Linked DNA regions of Homo sapiens: region 1 is linked to region 2. The links come from fine-mapping of genetic effects on gene expression. A gene starts in region 2. The other region holds a variant in brackets. All regions are shown on one strand. Distances are between the middles of the regions.

The links.
Region 1: its variant is fine-mapped to the expression of LINC03082 in aorta (GTEx, PIP above 0.99). The same link has a PIP of 0.9 or more in coronary artery, lung, prostate, subcutaneous fat, tibial artery and tibial nerve.

Annotation. Positions count from the first base shown.
Region 1 is chr13:110,054,208-110,059,583 of GRCh38, reverse strand. It overlaps LINC03082 (long intergenic non-protein coding RNA 3082), which reads left to right. Exons shown (of 3, transcript NR_187462.1): 2 at 3,356-3,474. It overlaps LINC00396 (long intergenic non-protein coding RNA 396), which reads right to left. Exons shown (of 4, transcript NR_126387.1): 4 at 4,632-4,811. Among named protein-coding and RNA genes, the nearest start is that of LINC00396, 3.6 kb to the right of the region's middle. The variant T/C (reference allele first, on the strand shown) is at 2,225.
Region 2 is chr13:110,126,774-110,132,149 of GRCh38, reverse strand. LINC03082 (long intergenic non-protein coding RNA 3082) reads left to right here and starts at 3,014. Exons shown (of 3, transcript NR_187462.1): 1 at 3,014-3,293. LOC101927712 (a long non-coding RNA gene) reads left to right here. Exons shown (of 3, transcript XR_931726.3): 3 at 1-188. RefSeq lists enhancers at 4,436-5,243, 5,244-5,376.

The DNA.
Region 1 (5,376 bases), 73 kb after region 2:
TCTGGCAAAATGAAAGAACTGTGATGACTGTATCATTTTTAAGAGGGAACAATAATGTAAAATTTAAGGTAAGGGGGTAAAATAAATTGCCAGTAACTATGGCAGATATCTTCCTTCAGTAGTGAAGTGCCTTCAGTAGTGCCTTCAATAGTGTAGTTGTGAATCAAAGTGTTACAAATATTAGTCAATATTATAATGCAGACTATTAAAGGGGGCTTCCATTTGAGACGGAGTCTTACTCTGTCACCTAAGCTGGAGTGTAGCGGCTCAATCTCTGCTCACTGCAACCTCCACCTCCCGGGTTCAAGTGATTCTCATGCCTCAGCCCCCCGAGTAGCTGGGATTACAGGCACGTGCCACTATGCCTGGCTATTTTTTTTTTTTGTATTTTTGATAGAGACGAGGTTTCACCATGTTGGCCAGGCTGGTCTTGAACTCCTGGCCTCAAGCAATCCACCTGCCTCAGCCTCCCAAAGTTCTGGGATTACAGGCATGTGCCTGTAAGTATTATATTAATATTTATCTTTATATCCTAACTAATAGTAGTGGGTATCCCATTTAACAAGGGATTCTACTAAAAATATCATATTCAGTAGTCTCTTTTCACCCTTAATGACCTTTCAAGCCAAGACATTTCTCAAAATTCAGAGCTGTTAAAATATATCAGTATGTTAATATACTTTCAATATCTGTTTTATTGTTTTAATTTTTTAAAATTTTAAGTTAGTTTTTTATTACAAAAGTAATGTATGTATGCTTATGGACAAAGTTTCAAATGTTACTGAATGGCACAAAGTGAAAAGCAACATTTCTTTCTGAATCCCTGCCTTGTCCCTACAAGCTCACCACTCTGGACATTTTTTGGTGAGCATCCTTCCAGAAATGTTTACTCAAATGCTATTCTACTTCTGCAATTTGCTCCCTGCCTTCACGGAATATTACTTGGACCATTTTCCATGTCAGCAAATATATGTCTACCTCATTCTTTTAAAAGACCGTGTGCTGTTTGGGAGGACATTCTATAATAATTTTAACAGACATCTATTTGTGAACACTTAGCTTCCTTCCAACTGTTTTTCCAGCTTCAGGAAATTGCTGCAGGGAACATTGTACAACATATACCTGCAGCCTTGATCAAGTATTAAGTACATTTCTGGAAGTGGAATCACTAGTATAAGGGGGGCTTGCATTTTGAATCACTGATTGCTACTGTAAAAATGCCCTGCACGGAGGCTGTAGCCAATTCCACTCAAGTGAAAGGATGTTTGTTTATTCCTGGCCTCACTGAAAATTACCAAGCTCTTTATCTCGTTTTTTGTCTAGCAGGTAAAAACCTATGTCTTCTTTTTATTTAAAGTTCCTTTATAATTATATGTTAAATGTGTACATATTTTAATGTTTGTCTGTGTTTTTAAACTTTACTTATTTTTATGTAAGGTGATTTAAGTTTTTTTCTTCTGTCAATTTGTGAGTAGTATTTGCATAGTAAGGAAATTGGGTCTTGATATGTTTTCTATGTTGTAAATATTTTTAAGTGGATTTTTAATTTGTTTATGGTATTTTAAAAGCATGCATTAGTTTAATTTGTTTGATGTTTGCATAGTCATATATGCTAATCATGTTCTTCCTGACTTCTGGGAGATGATGTATTTTTAAAGCTACTTTGATTCTGTTCTCCCACTCTTTTCTCTTGCTATGTTGGTCATACTTTTTATTTGCAAGAGAAAGAAAAAAGGTTTTTGCTGATTTTTTCCTTCAATTCTTTATCTCATCAAGGACAATTTTAAGGGGTATCATAGCCCTGCCGTACGCCAGAGGGGTGCAGTGAACTAAGGCTTTGCGTGTGCTGAGGACAGGATTACTTTGTTGAGATCCTCGCATGCATATATGATCACAGCCCAGGAGGGCAGTACAGCCAGGCGGCAGGTGAGGGCAGCCCAGGGCTTGGGAGATTCCTACATTTCAGGATGGCTTTGGTGTCTGCAGGTCACATATAATTTAATGTTTTCAGTTACACTGTATCAACTTTAAAAATAATTCGGTGAGGGAAGGAACCTCGATCTTGGCATCCTGGGGTTCTGGGTTCTGACCTCTGTCCTGGCATCCCGAAGGGTCTGATGATGTTTGCTGGATGTGTGGCAGCTCCAGGGCTCGGCTGCCTCTTTTTGGTTATTTGGTTTCTTGTTCCTCCCAGTGACTGAAAACCCCTCCCTCCCTGGCTTTT[T/C]ATAGAAGCTAAGAAAAGAGCTTATTTTGTGACTGCATCCGGACCTTGAGTTCTTTGGCTCTTGTGTGAGTGGATGGTGACACCAGGCCAGCTGGGGATTCTTCCCAGGCTGGGCTCACAGGCTGGGGCTGGGCACACGGAGCAGCTGCGGGAAAAGGATCTGGACACCAGCCCCCCAGCGTGTCACCGGCAGGAAGGTGAGGTGGGAACAGAGTGACGTCCATGCATGTTCAGGTGAGGCCTTTGTCTTTTCTTTGCTTGCGCAGTGGGACTTCATGCTTTAACTTGCATCGGGTGACCAGAAAATGGCAGAGGAGCCCCACCCTGGGCAGTGATTTTAATATTACGATGACATTCAAATGAGGAGAAAGGCGTGAGGGTCAGGCTGCAGTCCCTCTGGTCTTCAGGCAGCTGGACCTGGTCAGGTCCTTATAGGGAATGCCAGAGTCCTGTTTCAGTGACCTCAGAAGGCATCACTCAAAGAGATAGATAGGTCCTTCCTTGTATGGTCAGGAATTCAGCCTGGTCAGCAGATTTAGGAGCACCTCCACCCCTTCCTGCTCCGTGACTCAGTCTACTTGTTAAGGGGTGCAAGTGGGGGAGGGAACGTGCCCGGATGTGTGAGGGCCATCAGGACCTGTGTTGCTTTGTCACATGTCTGCAGGACCCAGTCTCTTTCCTCTCCTGCCTCAATTTGACAGAAAATCAAGACACCTAAGAAATTTGGGATGAAATGTTGTTACGGAAAAAGTGAGGGATGACAGTCCATGAACATGACTTTAGGGACAATAAGGGGTCTAAAAATATCCGACGAAGAACAACATCTCATCCATTTGAAAAGTGAAAAGTGGAATCTTGTTTGAATTTGTATTTCTTTGATGACTGCCAAGGGTAAATATTCTTTCCTTCCTTCCTTTCTCCTTCCTTTCCTTCCTTTCCTTCCTTCCTTCCTTCTTTGAAACAGGGTCTCGCTCTGTTGCCCAGGCTGGAGTGCAGTGGTGCCATCATGACTCAATGCAGCCTTGACCTCCTGTGCTCAAGTGATCCTTCCAGCTCACCCTCCCCAGTAGCTGGGACTACAGGCGTACACCACCATGCCCAGCTACTTAAATTTTTTCTTTTTTTTTTTAGAGACAAGGTTTCCCTACGTTGCCCAGACTGGTCTTGAACTCCTAGCCTCAAGCAGTCCTTCTGCCTCAGCCTCCCAATGTGCTGGGATTACAGGCATGAGCCACTGCACTTGACCAAGGGTAAATATTTTCTGTACGTTAATTACCTTCTGTATTTTTTGCCATGAAACTTAAAACCAATCCCTTTAAAACTTGTTTATATGGATGCCTCCATAAGCAATTCTTTACGTGTATTTAATCAAGCACGGATCTAGGTGTTGCTGTGAAAGTATTCTACAGATGTGCTCAGTCTCTGCAATCAGTTAACTTGAAGTAAAGGAGATTACACTCTGTAATGTGGGTGGGCCTCACCCAGCCAGCCATAGGCCTTACTGTTAAAGACAGAGGTTTCCATAGAGGAAGACGTTCCACCTCAACATGGCAGCACTGGCTCCTGCCTCAGTTTCCAGCTGCTGACCTGCACCACTGATTTTGGATTCGGCCGCCGCACAATCGCATGGCAAATTTCTTAAAATTGTCCTCTCTCTCATCTCCTGTTGGTTCTGTTTTTCTGGAGAAACCTGACTGATACAGTAATGGACAAGATCAGCAGCTGCGTGGAGCCCTATGTCTGAGCTAGGGATGAGGCCTTCGGAATGTCCTTCAGTGTTGACACTAAAACACATCTGCTATTTCTCTCTCATATCATCATTATCAACCAGCAGATCGCCTTGCTCAGAAGAACACTCTAGCTCTGTCATTGTTTTATAAGCTCAAAGAACAAAGAGCTGCCAGTATCTTAACCCCTCCCAAATCTAAATTAAAGGCACCATTGGAAAAGAAAAATGACCTAGATAGAGAAGAAGGGCAAGTACAGTAATTCACAACACCTTGTGCAGAGGCGAACATCTATGCTGACACAGACAAGCTCCTGGAATGCCCCGTTGTGGTGAGACTGTGGTTTCCTCACTGAGCAGGGTTTTCATCTAAAGACTGCCCTGACCCAACAGAGCCTTGAAGCTGTTTGTTGTCTGCTGACTGTGGATCAGGCATCTTGCTGGGCGCTGCAGAGGGCACAACACAAGTAAGGCACATAGAGCTCACAGGCAATGCTTATTTTGGTAGAAACATGAGCAAAGGGTGTTTCTGCTTTATTTGTTTTGTTTTTGCAAGGATGAGAGAGGAATCCAACTAGGTGCATTTGTTCAGAATGCAGGCTAAGGGGGATTCGACAGTCACTATGAGACCAGGTAGGATGGGATAGGGATATGAAGTGGAAGGATGACAATGGAGTCAAATGGAAGGAATCGAATCTATTGCTTAGGCTCCTGTGGCTTCACAGTTTTCTTCAACTGTGTTGCCTACACACTTTATAATAAAATTAAAATTAAGATGATGGCAATCAAATAAGCAATTCACAAGGGCAGATCTTGTTCTGCTTCATTATCTGATTCACCTCTGAGGAGCTTCCTGAAAGCCTGAAAAAAAAGAAGAAAAAGGAAAACACAGTAAGTGACCAAACTTTTGTTTCCAGAAAGTAAGAAAATACTAATTAGGACCCATTTATGAGACACAACAGAGTACTGGTGCTGAAGTATCCCTCTCCACATCAACAAGTAGAAACTGAACAGAATGCATGAAGCACCTGTTTTCAGACACTGAGGACCACAGCCAAGGGTGGGATTCCTGGCGGGTGCGTGGGGTGTGCTCTGGGATTGCTGAGATGCTCTCTCTGGACTGTGGCATGAGCGGGTGGAGCCCATGTACAGCATGGTGGCCTCATGGAGTTGCGGACAGATGGTAGAGGTTGGGGTGTGTGAGGAGGTGGCAAGGTTTGCAGTGGGTGTCTGACAGGATCTGAAGAAATCTGCGGAGAGTCCCCTTGAGCCTCATGGAGAACAAAGAACACTTTGAGCAGAACGGAGAGTCCAGAGTAGCCCACGCAGAAGGTTGGGGAGACCGCACTGCACACCTGCATTCAACAGGGACACAGAACGGCACGCGCCGTGCACGGGTCTCTCTCAGCTGCCAGGTAGGGCTATG
Region 2 (5,376 bases):
ACTAATCCAGGATGCAAAAACGTTATGGGGGGTTGTAAATACGAACTATACAACAGTTTAGGATGCAATTATGAGTGTAAACTGTGTGCCTTATTTATACTTCATTGTCTCCAGCTTCTCAGATAAAGTTTTGATGTGTTGTACAGTGGAATATCTTAGATACTTTTTGGAAAGTTTTTACATAAGTTATATCACAATTAAAATGTTGAATTTCAAAAAAAAAAAGAGGCATTCGTTTGAGATTGCCTGGGGTCCTGTGGTTTGCTGAATAAGACTCAGTGTGGGGAACTGTAGACTCTTCCTGAGAAGCTCAATTCCAAAAGGAAAAGGAAAATGCCGACTGGGATTCCCTGACAGGCATTGGTTAGCTGCTGTCTCTGTCCACTGATAACTGGAGCTTTCAGAAAGGCATCCTCTGCAGCCCAGCATCAGCTTCTCCGCCTGCTGTTCCCTCCGGGAGGCGGCCCGCACCTCAGAAGCAGACACCGTTGTGCCTGGGTCCGGTGGCGTCTGGCCAACAGGGGCTGGATGGGGGGCAACAGCAGCAGGAGGAGGACAGAGGAGGTGTTTACTCAGGGTCTCCTGTTAGGGTGCTGTGGGGTGTTGGGTTTCTCTGCTGGAAGCTGCAGCTCTGGTCACCACCTTCTCAAACTATAGGGCTGCCCACCGGGCATGGTGGCTCACGCCTGCAATCCCAGCACTTTGGGAGGCCGAGGTGGGTGGATCACCTGAGGTCGGGAGTTCGAGACCAGCCTGACCAACCTGGAGAAACCCCATCTCTACTAAAAATACACAATTAGCCGTGTATGGTGACACATGCCTGTAATCCCAGCTACTCGGGAGGCTGAAGCAGGAGAATCGCTTGAACCCGGGAGGTGGAGCCTCCTCCCATCTGCCCCCTCCCTTGGGCTTTCTGGAGGGATGGACAAAGTACAGTATTAAGGCTACTGCTTCTCTCTGTGCAAACAGCCCTCTTCCCATTTTAGGAAGGGAGTTGTCTATGCTGGAGAGACCCCCATGAACCAAGGAGCAGCTCAAAGCGAGCTTCCATGTCCTTCCAGGGGTCTGCGGATCTTCTGCTACTCTTTTAGCATCTCTGCTCTCCTCCCCTTCCCAGGCTCTGATAGAACCCTGAGGGCCTCACTTCCCTTGCTCCTGGACTTGCAACTAGGAATACATTTAAAAAGTCTCCTCCAGAGGAGCACAATTCCAGCTAAGCCGTTTGTTGTTGCTGTGAGCCGAGATCACGCCATTGCACTCCAGCCTGGGCAACAAGACTGAAACTCCACCTCAAACAAAACAAAACAAAACAAAACAAAACAAAACAAAACAAAACACTATGGGGCTGCCCTCCAGGGCCATGGATAAGACTTCTTCCCCCTCTCTGCAGCCCTGAGGCTGGTGACCCCTGGTTTAGTGGACTAAACATTACTGCTTTTCCTAAACTCTGCCCCTATCTTGGTAAAATGTCCCTTCATCCTAAGGTCCTTAATGTCAGCTGTTCGCTGCAGCATCCTGACTAATGCACAGCTGAGAGGCAGTCAGAAGCCAGCAACAATGAGGGTGATTTTAAAAGACCATGACGAATGTGTACACAGAATACTCAGTGGCCCCAATCCCATACAGGTGCTGAAGGTGGGCTACGAACTGCACACTAAGGTTCTGTAGGGAAATGAATTAGGATTGGTGGTAGATTTTCCACTGAATCTTCTTGTAATACAGTTCTCTAAGTGCTTCCCTGTACCCACAGTTCTAAATGATCTTCAGTGGAGCGTATTTGTCTGTGTGTGTGCGTGGGTGCCTTAATACTTCTGGAAGCATCCTCTTAACCCACTGTTTTCATTTATACACATATCACCTGTTTCATGGCTAGGACTTGGTAGGATTAGACATACATGGGCCAAAGGTAACTTCAGTCAGACCCTGTTTAATTATAAAATGGCAGAGTAAAATAGATCTAATATGTCAAGGGACACACCTTAAAGCTTATCCAGCCTGAAGAACATTAATGGTAAGTAGAAACAAGCGAACAAAGAAAACCTTTTGAAGTGGCAACAGAGGGGAGGGGTGGGTGCTGGCTCCTACTGAGTTGAGGACAGAGCCATTCCTCTCACTGATGTGCTTCTTCCCTGGAGGTGAGTGTGGGGTGCATGTGGGTGTGCGTGGGGTGGATCCCATGCTGGTGCCAGGACTGCCAAAGTGTGCGTTGGTGGGAAAGAGAAGGAAGGGAGAGCAGGATCCAGTGTCCATTGTGCTGATTTTTTGTGGACACAGAAATGAGAAGGCAGAGAAGATGTCCAAGTCTTCTGTAGGAGAGCTCACCCTCTCCTGGGTAGTTAAGGTCAACCACACTGCATCCGGATCCTGCCAGGAACTTGGAACGCCCAGAGGGCTGGCAGCGACGCAGTGCTGGACATTCCCACCCCACCCGGGCTGCTGCGCTGGGGGCAGCCGGATCCACAGAGATGCAGAAGATGTTGTGGGAAGAGACCATGGGAGAGCCACAGAAGCAGAAGCGCCTCCCTCCCCACTCCCTGCACACCCACCCCCTAAGCTGGGAGCGCCCAACATGCAGCCAGAAAAAAAAAAATCGTTGAAGGCCGGTTCACATCTACTGCCTAGAGAGCAAATCCTCACTGATGTCAATTTCACGTATATGGAAGTGAATATATTCACTTCCTAGGCTGCTGAAACGAAGTGCCACAAACTGCCTGGCTGAAAATAACAGGAATTTGTGTCTCACCATTCTGGAGGCTGGAATTCTACGATCAAGGTGATGTCAAGGCCAGACTGTCTCTGAGGCTCGGGGTAGAAGCTGTCCTGCCTCTTCCCGGTTTCCGGTGGGGCCAGCGGTGCTCGCGGATGCTCCTGCAGGCTTGTACATGCGTCGTCACAACCTCCGCCTTCAGCCACACCCCGTGTTCTTCTTGTGTGTCTCGGTCTTCACGTGGCGTGCCTCTTTTTTATAAGGACAGTGGTTTTATTGGATGCGGGGCCCACCCCATTCCAATGTGACCTCGTTCTAATTAATTACATCTGCAAGGACCTTATTTCCAAATAAGGTGACATTCTGAGGTCCTGGGGGTTAGGACTTCAACATCATTTTTGGAGAAAACCATTCGACCTTTGACAATGCCCAAGTAAAACGGTTTCATTTTTAGCGAGTGGACGTTCGAGTTCTCTATTTGAGGCATTTTTCTCAAGGATTTCTAACAATAGCTCACGTTATAGGTTGCGTTTATTTTTCACCATAATGATTTTTAAAATGTCAAAGCCTTGGCCCAACGACATGGGTGAGTTTGTTTTTATTGTTAGAAAGGATTCTATGCTGCTTTCAAATGTCTGCAGGTTTATTTTTAGCTGGACAGGAAGTGCATCTTACGCTTATGTTGGTTTGTAGGCTGCCCCCTTTTTTGGAGGAATGTTATTGTTAGAAAACCACGTTCAGTTTGGAGATGAGTTTGGATTGAGCACCACGCAAATCTAAGTTATAATTATACTACTCTCCGCTATAGATTTTCCAAAATAATCTTTCTGTTCATCAGAATTTGAAACCTTTCAAATAATGGTTCCGTTTGTTATTCACAATTTCACAGCCCAGCAGCTGCCTTTTATTTGTCTTTAAATGAAAGGTCAAGAGGTTTTGATGTAACCTGGGGTTGAATTGAAGGTAGCATGTCCATGTAGTGAGATGTAAAGTGAAAAATAAAAAAAAAAAAACATAAAAATGCTATGTCGTGACCACAAGATACCAGAATCATTCTTATTTGTTATGACTAAACATCCAGTTATTTCAAAGGGAGGGAAATAGTTCAATCCAGAGCTTACCTAAATTTTTCATTGTTTCAGCAAAGGGGCTTGTGATTTGGGGGAAGTTTAGTTCTTAAGTAGAGGACCTTTCCATCAGACAAGCTGCTTGTATTTGTTGCTGGTGCCACGGATAAGCTAGTATTTCAGAAGAGAGCAAGGTAATCCCATCCTAATGCCGTAATGAGGGTCACAGTGAGGTACGGGAAACGGTGGGACTTTCCACCTAAAAATATCTGCCAGCAGTTATATTGTCAGTTGGCTGTGATCTCCACCTCCAGCAGTGAACCTTCGGGGAGGAGGTTCTTTGACCTTCCTTGGTGTGATTGCCTGGGGAAAGTGATCATTTCATGGAATCGTGTCTGTTTCTCCATCCTCTTCTTTGAGGGACTTCTGAATGAATAAGGTATCACTCTCACACCCCAAACCAACACTTTAACCCTCTGTTGAAATACTATTTAAAGGATGGTTGCATGAGGATGGATTCTATTTTTGCCTGTGACCAAACACAATGAGTCTTAAAAAATAGCCTAGATTTCTTTCTGCTTTGCCTTGAGTGATGATTACAAACACCCCAGCCTTCCACGTTGGTAAGGGCCACTCTCAGGTTCACTAGTATATCTGATGGTGACCACTTACTAAGGTGCCTCCTGTGAGCCGGGCACATATCATGTGTGTGGCACGTCCCATCTCATTTACTCCTTACAACAGCCAGATGAGCTACAACACCCAGATGGTGCTCCCTATATCGCCTTTACAGAGAGGTGACATGGTGGTATGGAGGTAGCCAGGAAAAACCGCGCGGAGGCTCCGACCATCCATCTCTTTGCTTTAGGCCTGGGATCACTTGCAGATGAACCATCTGCCCCCTCCCTTGGGCTTTCTGGAGGGATGGACAAAGTACAGTATTAAGGCTACGCTTCTCTCTGTGCAAACAGCCCTCTTCCCATTTTAGGAAGGAAGCTCTTTATGCTGGAGAGACCCCCATGAACTAAGGAGCAGCTCAAAGCGAGCTTCCATGTCCTTCCAGGGGTCTGTGGATCTTCTGCTACTGCTTTAGCATCTCTGCTCTCCTCCCCTTCCCAGGCTCTGATAGAACCCTGAGGGCCTCACTTCCCTTGCTTCTGGACTTGCAACTAGGAATACATTTAAAAAGTCTCCTCCAGAGGAGCACAATTCCAGCTAAGCCAATCATCCATTCGAACCTTCATGTCTTGGGTTATCGGTTTTCTACTGCAAGGGACGCACCTCGTTCCTTGGAGGGTTACATGGGGTTTGTTGATGGTGTAATCAATTGCCCATGTGATTTGGAAAGACAAACTCGGCGGGTTGAAGCAGGATGTATCCTTCCACATTTTAATTGCTCCCAAGAATGATCAGATAATTGCCTTCCTTTGAAGGATCCATGAGAATGTGCTGAAGTGTCCCAGCAAAACAAAAGAGAGTCTCTGAGCGGCTTCTATTCTTGTCTGGCTCTGTTGACAGCGATTGAATGCTCTGGGGAAGAGAAAAGGCTGGCAGGGAGCCTGGGCCCAGAGGAACGTGAGGAGAGCTGGGCCCCCTCCGAGA